2 linked regions of the Homo sapiens genome follow. The protein of the gene in region 2 interacts with the protein of the main gene of each other region in a pairwise test. Each region holds a gene or a part of one and is shown on either strand. Other genes may lie near its edges.

Region 1 (6,462 bases), on a different chromosome or scaffold from region 2:
CAGATTAGGAGAATGGCTGGATTTAATCAACTTGTGTCAATTCAGCACAGTAGAGGGAGAATATACAGAGCAGAGGGGAATGATTAGAATGATGGACAATAGAATCTGAGCTAGATGCATATGGAAGTAAATGGAAAGATAAAACAGGTGATAAATAGTGAAGTGATGAGGTTGGTGGATCGGTAGGTTCAGTGAGACTGAGAGTTAGATGTTAGAGTGTAAGCAATAAAATAGGTGAGCTGGAAGATGCTTGGAATCAAGATTTTGAAAGTGGTGCTGTAATTAATCATAATGATATCAAGATATGTATGATTTCAGGAAATATGGTGGAAGAGGCCATCCCTGGAATGGAGAAGGCCAAAGAGGAGAGGCCAGGGAAGATGCTAAATATGTGGTCCATGTAGATATTGAAATTACCAAGATGTCAAGGATAGAGGTACAACAAAAGCCTATGAGCTTTTGCATCAATGATTTGCCCAACTTTGTATAATTTCCTCCTCTTTGAACTTCTTAACTTTGTGCCCCCTTCATAATATATGTCTTATTCTTTGCCTTATTGTGTATTTTTTTCTTCTTCTTCTAGACTAGGCAATGAAAATAAGCTTGTTTGCCATCTTCTGTAAAGATACACAAACTAGACATTTTCCAACACAGTGTCGCAGTGAATAAGGATTATGAGATTTAAATAGTGACTCTAGGAAGCCTCTATATAATTGAGGGCAAAACCATTTCATGAAGGGCCAGTCCTAGTTTTGAATAGGTAGGAGAATGCAAGATAATGGTTTAAGAGTAATGCTTCAGAGAAATCTTATGTCATATGACAAAGATGTATAGAAACAATCAAAGTTTATCTTCAGAAAAGATCTGTCAATTTTTAAATAGTACAAAAATAAACAGACATTTATTTCCAGACTTATCTTTTACATAAGTTAAATACACATTTGTCTGAGGCACTGAAACATTCGCATACACAACCCAAATTCCCAGGTTTTGTCAGCAGATCAATGTTAATAACAAATCAAGTTTTTTTTTTAAAAAAAACAGTGAACAGTGTTTTATACAAGCATATTGACTATTTCTTTCTTAACCTTAAACATTCTAAACGTAAAATTGTAAAGAAGATTCTCCTGAGTTATCTTTAATGATATTTATTTCATTTTCTCCCTCTTCCCAAAAGAAAATTTTTTTCAATTATTTATATAAATACTATTATCTGTAATCAGCGTTTGATTTAAAAATATTAAAACCCACAGTGCTTGACACAGAATATTTTCTCAATAAATTGTGGCTGAACAAATTAACGAAGCATCCACAGATCCCTCAAAACATTTTAAAAGGTCAGTCTTATGGCACATTCAGGCTAATGAGACAATATTCTTTGTGGGCTAGCACATAGGCCTATCCTAAGGACAAACATTCAACCTTAAATATCTCAATATGCCAATCAGATTTCTAAAAATTTATTCACAAATCTTAATACAATCATTTCTTTGGATTGTTTACATAATATTCAGAGAGGTAACCCCAAAGAAAATATACTGATTGTGACATAACAAAAAAAAATCAATGATTGTAGGCTTAAACACAGTTTATAACCATAGTGTCCTAATAAGACATAAATAATAATCTTCAATAAATTAAGTAATATACAGTACCATTAAATGTCAGTGACAATGAGATGTGGAAAAGAAGTATTATCGTCATTATTATTATTGCTGAGAACTACTTAGATATCATTTGGTTTTGTTTTTAAATAAGAAAGGGCATTAATTAGAATGGGAACGTAACTTTTTCCAGTCACAAACCCCGTACAGTTCTCTCTGAGGCACTAGCCTCTTTGCATCCATCTTGGTTACAGATAGCTAAAATTAGCTATAAATAAAATTCTCTGCTTTTCACTTAAAATAAGTGTATACTATTTTTAAAAGGGCCTTTTTTTTTCTCTTTTAATCTTCTTAAGAGGAGCTAAATAGCAGTCCTGAGCTGAGGTTTACCTGAAAACTTGCAAAAGTTCAGGTAAGAAAATATAGGCAGAGTCCAAAGAAAGTGAACTCTGATCTTAAAACTAGTAAAACAAAATAGGAGAAACGAAGTGATGAGAAGACTGTGTCTCTTAGCAAAATGGCTAAAAGAAGAAAAGAAAAGGAACAGCATGCAGGTAGCCAGGCTTGATTCCAATGCACCTACTGAATTGGCTTCAAGACTGAGATAAAATTAATGTGTGAAATGAATTTAAGCATTTTGAAGAGGTATTTTATGAGGTCATTGCTACTTTTGCAATGTGATATGGACTGCTAAATTAAACTGTACAACAGAAAATCTGAGAAAACATATCATTATTCAAGCACAGCTTGGTACTTCATTAACCTCATAGCAAAATCTGAGTACCAGGCCTGCAGTGCACAAGGATAAAAAAAAGTTTGCTTCAAAAGTTTAAACCTAAATTTGAACAATAATTTGGTTTTCTTCTTTGTTATTGCTTATTTTAAAGGTAGACCCTTTTGCTGATATAGATTTTACATGTTACCAGCCATATAAACAAATTCTGGAATATCTCAACAAAATATTCTTATTTTAAGATAACACTGCAGTGGCTCCACCACCTTAATAAATTTGGCATTTTGATTTAAAAGGAAGTTTTAACAGTCACACTAAAAAGGTTTATACTCTTGGTGAAAAAGGAACATCACTTATAAAATATTTTAACAAGCAATTGTAGTAAAATTTCTACTGATTTTACAGATTTAAATCCAAGACAGCTTCTTTTTGGTATATGTACAAGTTTAATAACTTTAAGAAATCAAACAAGCTTTTACAGGTGATTCTACCCTATGAATTTAGAAATTTCAAATTATTGTTTCATTGCTGATTTTAAAAAGTAGACATGAAATTACTGGTAATGTCTAATTTAAATATTCATTTAATAATGCACTGATACCTGTTTTTGTTTGATGACAGAAAAATAACCAAAAGTACTTTAAAATTTCAAACATTAGTTACTTCTAATGCATCATGGAAGATGCATTGGAAACATCGACAGTGTAAAAACTTTCAGCATTTTGCCATCTTGTGACAGTGTTTAAGTATTCAAACATCTTTACTTTCGTTCTTATAATATAAGTTGAAATTCAAGTAAAAAGACGTCAAAACTCATTTCTCTCTGGTTTATAAAACAGAATAAAAACTGTTTTCCAAACTTAACAGCAACAGCAAAATCTTTAGAGTAGTGACATAAAAGTCTTCACAAGTATGACTCCTTTCTCCGCAACAGGAGTACTGACTTCTGTTACAGAAGATGTTAAGTAACATAAGGAGTTTAATATAAATATTATTAAATAATTAAATTAATAGACATGGTTCATATAAATAAATAAATATGATCATTAGACTTCTACAGTTCAGTCGAACGTTCTTTTAGTAGTACTGTGGGATTGATATCATCTAGTCCGGAGCGGGAAGAACTTGCATTGATGGTGACTGTTTTAATGAGCTCTGGATCTGGAACACTGAATGAAGTAAAGGGACAGCCCTTCACGTTATTGCAGATGAGAGACTGAATTGAGGCAGTGTTGATGATTTGAAAACCCACTTCTCCACCAAAAGTGCTTGGCTTCCAGTAGGCAGGAGAACATATAACATTACCCATAAGTCCTTTCAAGGAGAATGGTGCTCCAACTTCTACCATGGTTTCACCAAAGATGGCATCTGGCCGAGGCTTTTCTACCAGAAGGGCAGGATACAGCTCCACAGCATCGATGTCACCATAGAGTGCTTCCAACTCTGCAGACATTTCCTTTTCTCCTGTGAAGGCGATGAAGACAGAGATACAACCAATGTCAAACTTCACAAAATAAAAAACAGTTTGATTCTTTTGCTCAATTTGCTGCCAACTTCTCTGTTTCCATTTGACCCCTGATTCTTTTAAGAAGTTTAGGGGCCAGGCGCGGTGGCTCACGCCTGTAATCCCAGCACTTCGGGAGGCCGAAGCCGGCGGATCACTAGGTCAGGAGTTTGAGACCAGCCTGGCTAACACGGTGAAACCCCGTCTATACTGAAAATACAAAAAATTATCCATGCGTGCGACGTGAGCCTGTAGTCCCAGCTACTCAGGAAGTTGAGGCAGGAGAATTGCTTGAACCCAGGAGGCGGAGGTTGCAGTGAGCCGAGATGGCGCCACTGCACTCCAGCCTGGGTGACAGAGGGCGGCTCCATCTCGAAAAGAAAACCAAAAACAACAAAAACAAACAAACAAACAAAAAACGAAGAAGTTTAGAAACTGTTTCTTACCTGTAAGTTCTTCAAATGATTCATAGGGCTTCAGCATAAAGCGTTTGCGGTACTCATTAAAAGACTGGTATTTCATCTGCCTGCTCTGGTCAATGGAAGCCTGTGATACTTTCTGTACTGCGGGTGGAACATTCCTACCACCAGCAACCTGTGGAAAGTAAAATTAGTTGTAAAACAAGAATTTTAGGCATATTTACTGTTTGTATTCAGCTTGCCTTAGGTACAAATCAGGTAAAACTGAAACTCCCAGCGGAGACAATTTTTATTTGCTGGAAAGATGCTTACCTACATTTCAACAGGAGCTCTGCTTAAAATTCAATGGGACACCAGCCTAGAACTAATTTGCCTTTTTACATTTCAAAAATAACACTAGTATTCAAGCCTAAAATATTTATTCCTATAAGATTATAGATACTTTTTGAAAATATTTTTAAGGTAGGGGTACAATTTGCTATTTGTCTGACAACTGTAGACTAGACTAAAAGTTTAGACTTTTCAAACAAAGTTAGGCTTCTTATATCAATAAAATAATTTTACTAGCAATATAACTAACTACTCTTTTAGTAAGTTTAAGAAAAATAATTTCCGTGGCAGAAATTCTAAAGTTACTGACTAGTCTTTTGTTTTGGTTTTCAATAATAATGCTTACCCTGCCAGCAATTTGCCTGGTGAATGATTCAACAAACTGGGTAATTCCATGTTCCAGCAATATAGAGTTGTTGTAGATAAACTGTTGATAGTTGTATTTCTGGTCATGAATTTGAAAGGTGTCAGGCAGAAGGGGATGCCAGTGATAGAGGGTGTTAAATTCAGCAGCAATACGATTTTGGTACTGGAATTGTTTGTTGAAAAGTAGTTCTGGGTCAAATTTCAGTTTGAAGTGATAGCCACTCAAGTGTTGCACATAATCTTCAATCACAATCTTAATAGTCTCTCCTATTTGCACAAAATAAATAATAAAAACATTTATTGCATCTGATCACAAGCTTTCAAGCAACTGGAATGCAATTTTTAAAATTTGCTATTCCTTCATTTCTGTTTTCTTCCTTGTCAGTATCAAAAGATAGCTATTTTATCAGTCATGCTTACATATTTAATGTATATAGAATGTGTGAGTTTTCATTTACCACATCTTGTCATTTACTCAAAACATAACAAAGATAGCACACTAATTTTCCCTGGGGAAGAGGGTTTTATATAAATCATTTTCTTGTTTACCTATCAGTATTAGCCTGCTTGTCTGGAACAACTGCTCATCACCCCATTCAGGATGCTCCTGTTTAAGCACATCGCATACTCTGTTGTGTTCCCGCAGCCAGATTGTGGCATACATCATCAGACCAGGCACCAGACCAAAGACCTCCTGCCCCACAGCAAACCGTAGATGCTCAGGGACTTGAGGAGGGTAGATCATCTCTGCCTGAGTATCTTTGACTGTGGGAGGATACATCTCTCCATCAATTATCTAAAAAAATAAATAAATAAATAAACATCAGTTAAAAAGTTAAGGAACACATTTTTAGGGATTTTAAAATATGGGTATAAGCGGTAATAACTAAGTCTTAATAGTCAAAGGAAGCATACCTGATATTTCATTTTTCCATCCTTGAAAAGGCGCAGTTTACGCTGTCTAGCCAGAGTTTCACCGTAAATATGATTTAAGTCCACCTAGAAAATGATGAAAAAATTTTAATTTGTTGCTGTTGAAGTTTTTCTTATATAAAGTGTCTATCATATAATTCATCATTAAATAATTTGATCATTTAGCTTTCTTTAAAATTTTTAAATAAAATATACATTTTTCATAGCCATGAATTGCTAAATTAATTTGTTTATCCACCAAAGCTACAAACTGATATGTCTTTGTGTTTAACGGAATTAATATACTATATTGAGCTTATATCATATATATTATATACTTCACTATGATGATATGGTAATTATAAAAAAGTATAAAAATGTATTATTTATAAAAAATTCTTACGAATAACTTGAAGCTATGCTATTGAAATCCAAAAAATAATAATGCGGCAAAAACCTCACTTTACAATATTGAAAGCGGCATAATCATGGTACAATGTGTTTTTGAGGACATAACATTTTGCAGTACTAACATTTTAAACTAAAAAATACAAGGGTCAAATTACAAATAACAATACCTGTACATATGTATGT
Region 2 (8,054 bases):
CAGATGCTGTCACCCCACCCGTGGATCTCTGTCATCGTGTTTATCACTCTCTGACATAACTCAATTCGGCCTCCCCCACTGGAGTGTCAGCTGTGTGAATTTGGGGACTTCATCTGTCCTGTTCCCTGCTGTATCCCCAGAGCCTGGATTAGTGCCCGGCACTGCTGAAGGAAGGAACGTTCGGTTGTGCAGTTTTTAACATACATTTACAAGACCAGATAAAAGGTTAAGGTCCCAAGTTGATCTCCCAAACATTTTGTTTTCTGTTCTGTGAAATCCCAAAGTCTGGAAGCCACAGGACAAGATGACCTCTGAAGTCTTGCTCTGTGACTTCCTCTCTGAATGACCTGTAAGGTCCCATTTCCAGCCAGTGTCTCCTTTTACAGTTCATGAGCTAGGTCAGATGAACAGCCGGGGCCCTGGTGCATGGCGTCTTTCCTACAGTCTTTGCTTTGGGTGTCTCAAATTGCTTCCCCCACCCACAGAGTCCTCACGGTTCCCTTGGCCACTGCTCATGGCTGACACAGGTCAAAGTGCCGGGCCCCAGCAGGAGGGTGGGGGCTGCACAGCCTCACCTGAGCAGGAAGCTGTAGGAGAAGTCGAGGAGACCCATCTCGTGCCAGCCACTGCCTGCTTCTGTAGCATCGCCCAACAGCACTGCATGGAGGTTGGTATACATGGCTTCTGTGAGTGCCTGGAGCTCTCTGTGGAGAAGAGTCCTGAGGCAGGAAACAAAAGCATGAAAATTTGGCTTCCAAAGGGAAATACACACCTACAGGCACCTCCCTCCCCAAACCTAAGGGTCCCAGAGCTCAAGCTCCCCATTGGCAAAGAGGTCCTGCGGAAGAGTAGCTTAAATAAGAGGATATTATTATGACTGTCATCGTCAACAATAGTTCCCATCTGTTATACTGAGCCTAATCTCATTTCGTCTTCAGACAAACCTGGGAATAAGAGTTACTATTATGACACCCATTTTACAGATGGAGAAACTCAGAAACAGAGAGGAAAGTGACTTGCCCAAGGTCACACAGCCAAAGCGGGACTGAAATCCTGGTCTGCCCAACTCCAGCATCTGAATTCTTAACCAGGAGAGTCTTTCCCTCCCTAAGGCACACAGCTTGGATAAGGGACCCATAGCGTTCTGGAAGAGAAGGAACTGAAAAGCAACTCATCTCTCCCTGAAATCTAAAGATAGGAAGATCTGTTGGAATAGCTGTGGTGTTCCCTGACTCAGGACTGCCAATAAGATGTGACCCTGGCCAGGCATGGTGGCTCCCACCTGTAATCCCAGCACTCTGGGAGGCCAAGGTGGGAGAATCACTTAAGTCCATGAGTTCAAGACCAGCCTGGGCAACATAGTGAGACTCCATCTCAACAAAAAATAAAATATTAGCCAGGGGTGGTGGCTCACACCTGTAGTCTCAGCTACTCGAGAAGCTGAGGTGGGAGGATCGCCTGAGTCTAAGAGTTCAAGACCAGCCTGGGCAACATAGTGAGATTCTGCCTTTACAAAAATAGAATAAATACACAAAGAATCACTAGCCAGATGTGTAGTAGGTGCCTGTAGTCCCAGCTACTCAGGAGGCTGAGGTGGGGAGGATTGCTTGAGTCCAGGAGTTTGAAGCTGCAGTGAGCTATGATCACACCACTGCACTCCAGCCTAGGCAACAGAGTGAGACTCTGTGTCTTAAAAAAAGAAAAGAAAAAAAAAAAAGACATGACCTCACATGAGAGTGACACAAGGAAAAAGGGATGTGGGCTGGAGATCTGGTCCCATCGTGTGGACCTGCACAGAGTGAGGAGAGGCCCCGTCTGGAAGAGTGTGGCAGAAGCTGGAAGCTCCCCTATACTGAGCCTCCATGATATGGAGTCTACACTGAGCCATGACTGAGGATATGATTAGAAGCCAAGAAAGGGGTATCTTGCATCTAAGTCTAAGGCCTCTCTGCTCCTTGTGTAGGATCTGGACCAAAAAGGATATCCCTACAGCAAGTGAAGTGGGGTGTCCATGGGCGGTGCACAGCCCATGGTCAACAGCAACACCTAGTGGCAGCAACAAGAACAGTGGGAGAGTGCCAATCAGGGCCCTGATCTGTCATGCCTGCTGTTTGGGAAGTAGGATGGACTGCTGTTTGGGAAGTAGGATGGACACCTTTAGACTGAGTAAGCCAGAAGTGCCTGGGTAATCCACCAGGGCAGGGTTTGCACAGGGCGTCCATGAACTCCTGGGTATGAAAAGGTTTGGGATGTTCAAGTTGGAACATAGTGGGAAAAACGACAGACATGGCTCATGACTCATGTATGACAATGCATGTGAAGGGTTCCGCACGGTGCCTGGCACATTGTAAGTGCTCAATACATGGGATCTGGCCTTCAATGGACCCTGACCCAGCTCTTCTCCCCACCCCACTCCAAGCGCTGGTCCTCAGCAGAGACAAGCCCTCAACAGATGTGGCTGCTGTGCCCAGAAGACATCACGCCAGCTTGTAAGAAATTCCAGAAAATTCCTGAGGCAAACACTGAAGGAAACTGGGATCCTCCCTGGGTAGCAGGGGCAGATTCAGTGAGCTGTGGATTCCTATTGCTAATGGGACCCCCAGGGTCCCCCTGGAATGTCAGGACCCAGGACACTCAGGCTCCAAGCAGCTGCCCCCAGGCCAAGGTTCAGAGGAGGCATCATGTCTCATCAACATCCACTTCATCATGCTGGCCTTGCTTCAGCCTTAACTATCTTGCAAAACAGTTTCCTAGATGCTCTTCCTAACCTCCAGAGGGTATTCCTCCTGGAGACAGATCACTGAAGATCGCCATTGGACTGTGTGAACTCTGCAGGGGCGGACACAGGGTCTTATCAGCCTTGGTATCTTAGATGAAGGAGAATGCGCTGTGAAGTCAGTGGACCTGGGTTCAAATCCCAGTCCTGCCACTTACTAGCAGTAGACTTTGAGCAAGTCACTTCACCTCTCTGAGCCTCAGTGTCCTCATCTGTAAAATAAGGATAAAAATGCCCACCTCTTTAGGCTAATGCACAGATATGAAAGTGAGCCTATCAGACACCTGGCCTATAATAGCTGCCTTCAAATGGTGGTTGGCACCGTTCTGCACACCCTACATCCAGGGCAATGACCAGGGTACAATGGGTCCTCAGATGTCTGCTGAATGAATGCAGAGCAAACATGTTCATCTGTTCTCTTATTGATATGATGACTCCATATGTGGCTGGGCATGGTGGCTCATGCCTGTAATCCCAGCACTTTGGGAAGCTGAGGCGGGCAGACCACCTGAGGTCAGGAGTTCGAGACCTGCCTGGACAACATGATGAAATCCTGTCTCTACTAAAAATACAAAAATTAGCCAGGTGTGGTGGCACGTGCCTGTAATCCCAGCTACCTGGGAGGCTGAGGCAGGAGAATCGCCTGAACCCGGGAGGCGGAGGTTACAGTGAGCCAAGATTATGCCACTGCACTCTGGCCTGGGCAACAGAGAGAGACTCTGTCTCAAAAATAAATAAATAAAATAAAATGATTCCTCCATATGTTTCAGGAGCTGTACCACTTCTGGCTATGTGGCCTGAGACAAGTCACTTCTCTGAGATCCAGTGGCTGCATCTATGAAATGGGGCTGTAAGTTACTTAGCCTCCAGCATTGTTGTGAAGACTAATGAGATAATGCATGCTGCCTGGCAGAGTATGGACTCAGAAATATTCATCATTCCACCTCTCTCCTTCATTTTACAGAGGAGGAAACAGAGGCTCAGAGAGGGAAAGAGGTTTGTCCAAAGTCACAAAGCTAGGGAGTGATGGGGCTGGGATTTGAATTTAGGTGTGGCTGACCCAAACCCTGGTCTCCTCCTACTAAAATCAGGGCTGCCTCCAAACAAACAAACAAACAAACAAACAAACAAAAAAACCCGCCAGAGATGAGAGACAAAGAGTTCTTCTTCCACCCAATTCTTTTGGGTTGTTTTTTGTTTTGTTTCTGTTTGTGTTCTCAAGACAAAATGTCTTTACCGAACATTTGCTTTGGAACCAAGAATAACTTGGGCCACATGAGTAGAAATGAGTCGCCCACCCTGGCCCTCCCACAGGTGCCATCTCCAGCCACTCACAGTTTCATCCTGGCCTTTTCATCACTGGGGCTGTAATGTGGAAGCTGCACATCAAAAATCCTCTCCATGAGGAAGATGGCATAGGCATGGAAGTCGAGCCTGGTGCGAGGCTCCCACACCACCGCGTCGTAGGAGTGTGGGTCCAGGAGAACGGTGACATACCTGCCCCCAACCAGTATCTGTGGGAAGTTGCCAGGGATAGAGTGAGGAGTGTCACTGTGAACAGCAGCCGCTCTCAGTGGTCAGGGCCTTACTGTGTGCCAGGCACTGCCCCACTGGACAGTAACACACTATGTTCTCTTATCTATGCCTCACTACCACCTACCACCCTGTGAGGTAGGGACCATCACTCACCCATTTATAGCTGAAAAAGTGAGGCTTAGAAAGGAGAAGAAATGTGCCCAAGATCTCATAGCTGAGAAGTGGCAGGACTAGGACTGGAATTTGGGAATATTGAGGCTTTTTAAAATCAAAGACTGTGTTCTCTACCACCTCACTCTTAAGCACCTGCCATGATTATCTTGGTTATTGCCATATCTCCAGTAGCCAGGAGAGAAGGCGGCAGATGGATCCTGTGCACATCATGGATGGATGGATGAATGGATGGATGAATGGATAGATGGATGGATGGTTGGATGGAAGAATGGATGGATGGATGGATGGAAGGAAGGATGGATGGATAAGTAGATGGATGAATGGATGGGTGGATGGATGGATGGATGAAAGAATGGATGGATGGATGGAAGGAAGAATGAATGGATACATGGATGAATAGATGGATGGATGGATGGATGCTGTTGGGTAAATTCCAGTGGGTGGATTGTAGAAGAGTAAATGGGCAGATGGATGGATTGGTGAATGGGTAAATGAATGGAAGGAAGGAAGGAAGGGAGGGAGGAAGGAAGGAAGGAAGGAAGGAAATTGCTGGGTAAATACTTGTGGATACAATGTTAGATAGATGGATAAATGGAAGGATAGATCAATGAATCTATGTTGGATGGAAAGATGGATGGAAGGGCAGCTAGAGGTTGGTTGGAAACCAAATGTACCAATAAATGTTGGGTACATGGATGAGAGAATGCTAGGTAGATACTGGGTAAAGTGAAGGATGAATGTTGATTGGATGGAAGTTGGAAGGATACATGGAAGGTGGGTGGGTGGTGGTCGTTTGAATAGATGTTGTAAGGATGGATGGATGAGATATAAATAGATGTATATCCAGTGGGGAGACATCGAATACTGAATATAGCTGAGTGTTGGGTGGATAGTGGCAGATGAACAGAAAGATGCGTAGATAAACAGAAAAATGAAAGTTGGTGGAAACTGACCAGTTATCCCTCAGTATCCATGGAGGATTGGTTCCAGGACCTCCTGCAGATACCAAAATCTATGGATGCTCAAGTCCTTGATTTAAAATGGCATAATATTTGCAAATAACCTACATGCATCCTCCCATATACTTTAAGTCATCTCTAGATTACTTATAATACCTAACACAATGTAAATGCTAAATAAATAGTTGTTAAACTATATTTTTAGGGAAGAATTACAACAAAAAAGTCTAAAAAAGTTTAGTACCAACACATTTTCCCCCAAATATTTTCAATTCGTGGCCGGTTGAATCCAGAGATATGGAACCCACCCATGGATACAGGGGGCCAACTGTATACAGATGAAAGTTGGATGAACATTGGATCCATGAGTGGAAGAACTCTGGGTAGATCTGGGCAGACACATGAAGGGATAGAAGATGGATAAATGAATTGACAGATGTCGGGTGAATCTATGGAAAAACTGATGGGTGAGTGGATAGACGGAGGTTGACGAATGAATGCTGAGTAGATATAAGGATGGAAGGACGCTTAGTAGACACCAGGTGGACAGGCAGAAGAATGGGATGGGAAGATGGATGTTGAACGGATGGAAATGGAATGGATAGATGGAGGTCAGCTGCATGGATATACAAGTATTGGATAGATATTGAGTGACTGCATAACTCCACGCTGGGAAGAGCAAGAGGGAGACTGAAGGGATGATGTTAGGTCAGCATTGAGAGTGCAGCTGGACAGGCAGCTGGATAGAAAGTTGGCTCGACCACTCAGATGGATGTTGGATGGTGGGGTGGGGGGGTTGGCATAGGGACATATGTTGAAGGAATCAACAGAAACCAGATATGAGGCCCAGCTGCTCATCCCCATCCCTCCCGAGGCACAAGAGGCACTTACAGTAAAGATGTCACCGTGCTTCTCCTTCATCCTCGTGAGGAAGCTGGCAGCATCTTTTCCAAAGTCCAAGGCATACCCCAACCAGGGGATGCTGCCCAGGTCCAGGGGAGGCTCACCAGGTCGCCTACAGAAGCCATGGCACTTGTCACCATTTGATAAGGCAAGGAAGGGCATAAAGAGTGTAGGTTGCAGAGTGTGATTTTGAATGGAGCAGTCGGGGAGGTAATCTGAATGGAGCACTCGGGGACTATTGCCTCACCTGCTCCTTTTCTCTTGTAACATGTGGATGACCACACCCTCCCTCTTTCCCCTCCAGCCCACTTTTCCCCCTTTAAATACTGAAACCCTCAGAGTCATCTTTGAAGAAAGGCACAGACCACAGACTGTTTCTGTGATTCTGTGGTTTTTCTTCTCCCTGGCATTGTCCTTAACCTTGGTAAAATAAACATCTAAATTGATTGAGACCTAGCTTAGATACTTTTTAGTTTACAAATTGGCGACCATGAAGGGACTCCATGTAGGTGGCCCTGGCCTTTGACAAATCTCCTGTTGGTGTTTGGTAACAGCTTGGTATCTGTCTTCATTGGTCAAACCAGTAGGGCTGGGAGCTCCCTGCTGCAGAGAATCCCGAATCTCTGAAAATTTGAGATCTAAGAGAGCTACAATTTGAGAGCTAAGTTTTATTTTGTTGTACAACTCCTTTTCTGGAGTATTACTTGCTTCCAACAAGGAAGGCAAGTTTTCCTGCTTCCATGACGATGGAGAGCACGTAACTCCCTTCTGGAGTTTCAACTCACTTCCAACAAGGAAGGCAAGTTTGAAGTTTTTTTTCCTGCTTTGTAGATGGTAAAGTGCAGGCCAGGCACAGTGGCTGATGCCTGTAATCCCAGCACTTTGGGAGGCCAAGGCAGGTGGATCACTTGAGGCCAGGAGTTGAAGACCGGCCCGGCCATCATGATGAAACGTCATCTCTACTGAAAATACAAAAATTAGCCAGGCATGGTCGTGGTGCATGCCTGTAGTCCCAGTTACTCGGGAGGCTGAGGCAGGAGAATCGCTTGAACCCAGGAGGAGGAGGTTGCAGTGAGCTGAGATTGCTCCATTGCACTCCAGCCAGGGCGACAAAGCAAGACTCCGTCTCAAAAAAAATAAAATAAAATTTAACCTGAAAGACTGGTTCAGGCCGTGGTGGGAAGTGGGGGTCAGACATGACTCATTATACCCTCCAGCATTCATATCAACACAGACCTTAAGTCTGATAAGAAACCTTTACATCTATTCGCTCTGAAGCCTGCTACCTGGAGGCTTCATCTGCATGAGAAAACTTTGGTCTTCACAACCTCTTATTATAACCCAGACATTTATTTCTATTGACAATAACTCTTGCAACCAATTGCCAATCAGAAAGTTTTAAAATCCACCTATAACCTGGAAGCACCCCCCACATCAAGTTGTCCTGTCTTTCTGGACTGGACAAATGTATATTGTCAATGTATTTGATTGATATCTCCTGTCTCCCTAAAATGTACAAACCGAGCTGTGCCTTGACCACGTTGGGCACATGTCATCAGGATCTCCTGAGGCTGTGTTGTAGGCCATGGTCACTCATATTTGGCTCAGAATAAATCTCCTCAAATATTTTACAGAGTTTAACTCTTTTTGTCAGCAGTGTTTATGTATGTGTGTGTGTTTATGTGTGTGTGTATGCGTGTGTATGT

What was found. Proteins that work in one complex are often made in the same cells at the same time.
Region 1: the proteins of PTGIS (region 2) and PTGS2 come close enough for resonance energy transfer, tested with the Homo sapiens proteins (one study listed by BioGRID).

The regions. Positions count from the first base shown.
Region 1 is NC_000001.11:186,670,962-186,677,423, forward strand, and holds the end of PTGS2 (prostaglandin G/H synthase 2 precursor), read right to left. Parts: intron 5,956-6,462; coding exon 5,872-5,955; intron 5,753-5,871; coding exon 5,506-5,752; intron 5,224-5,505; coding exon 4,937-5,223; intron 4,436-4,936; coding exon 4,288-4,435; intron 3,802-4,287; coding exon 3,392-3,801; 3' UTR 830-3,391; downstream 1-829. UniProt on the Homo sapiens protein: Dual cyclooxygenase and peroxidase in the biosynthesis pathway of prostanoids, a class of C20 oxylipins mainly derived from arachidonate ((5Z,8Z,11Z,14Z)-eicosatetraenoate, AA, C20:4(n-6)), with a particular role in the inflammatory response.
Region 2 is NC_000020.11:49,543,730-49,551,783, forward strand, and holds part of PTGIS (prostacyclin synthase), read right to left. Parts: intron 6,461-8,054; coding exon 6,337-6,460; intron 4,291-6,336; coding exon 4,112-4,290; intron 720-4,111; coding exon 576-719; intron 1-575. UniProt on the Homo sapiens protein: Catalyzes the biosynthesis and metabolism of eicosanoids. Catalyzes the isomerization of prostaglandin H2 to prostacyclin (= prostaglandin I2), a potent mediator of vasodilation and inhibitor of platelet aggregation.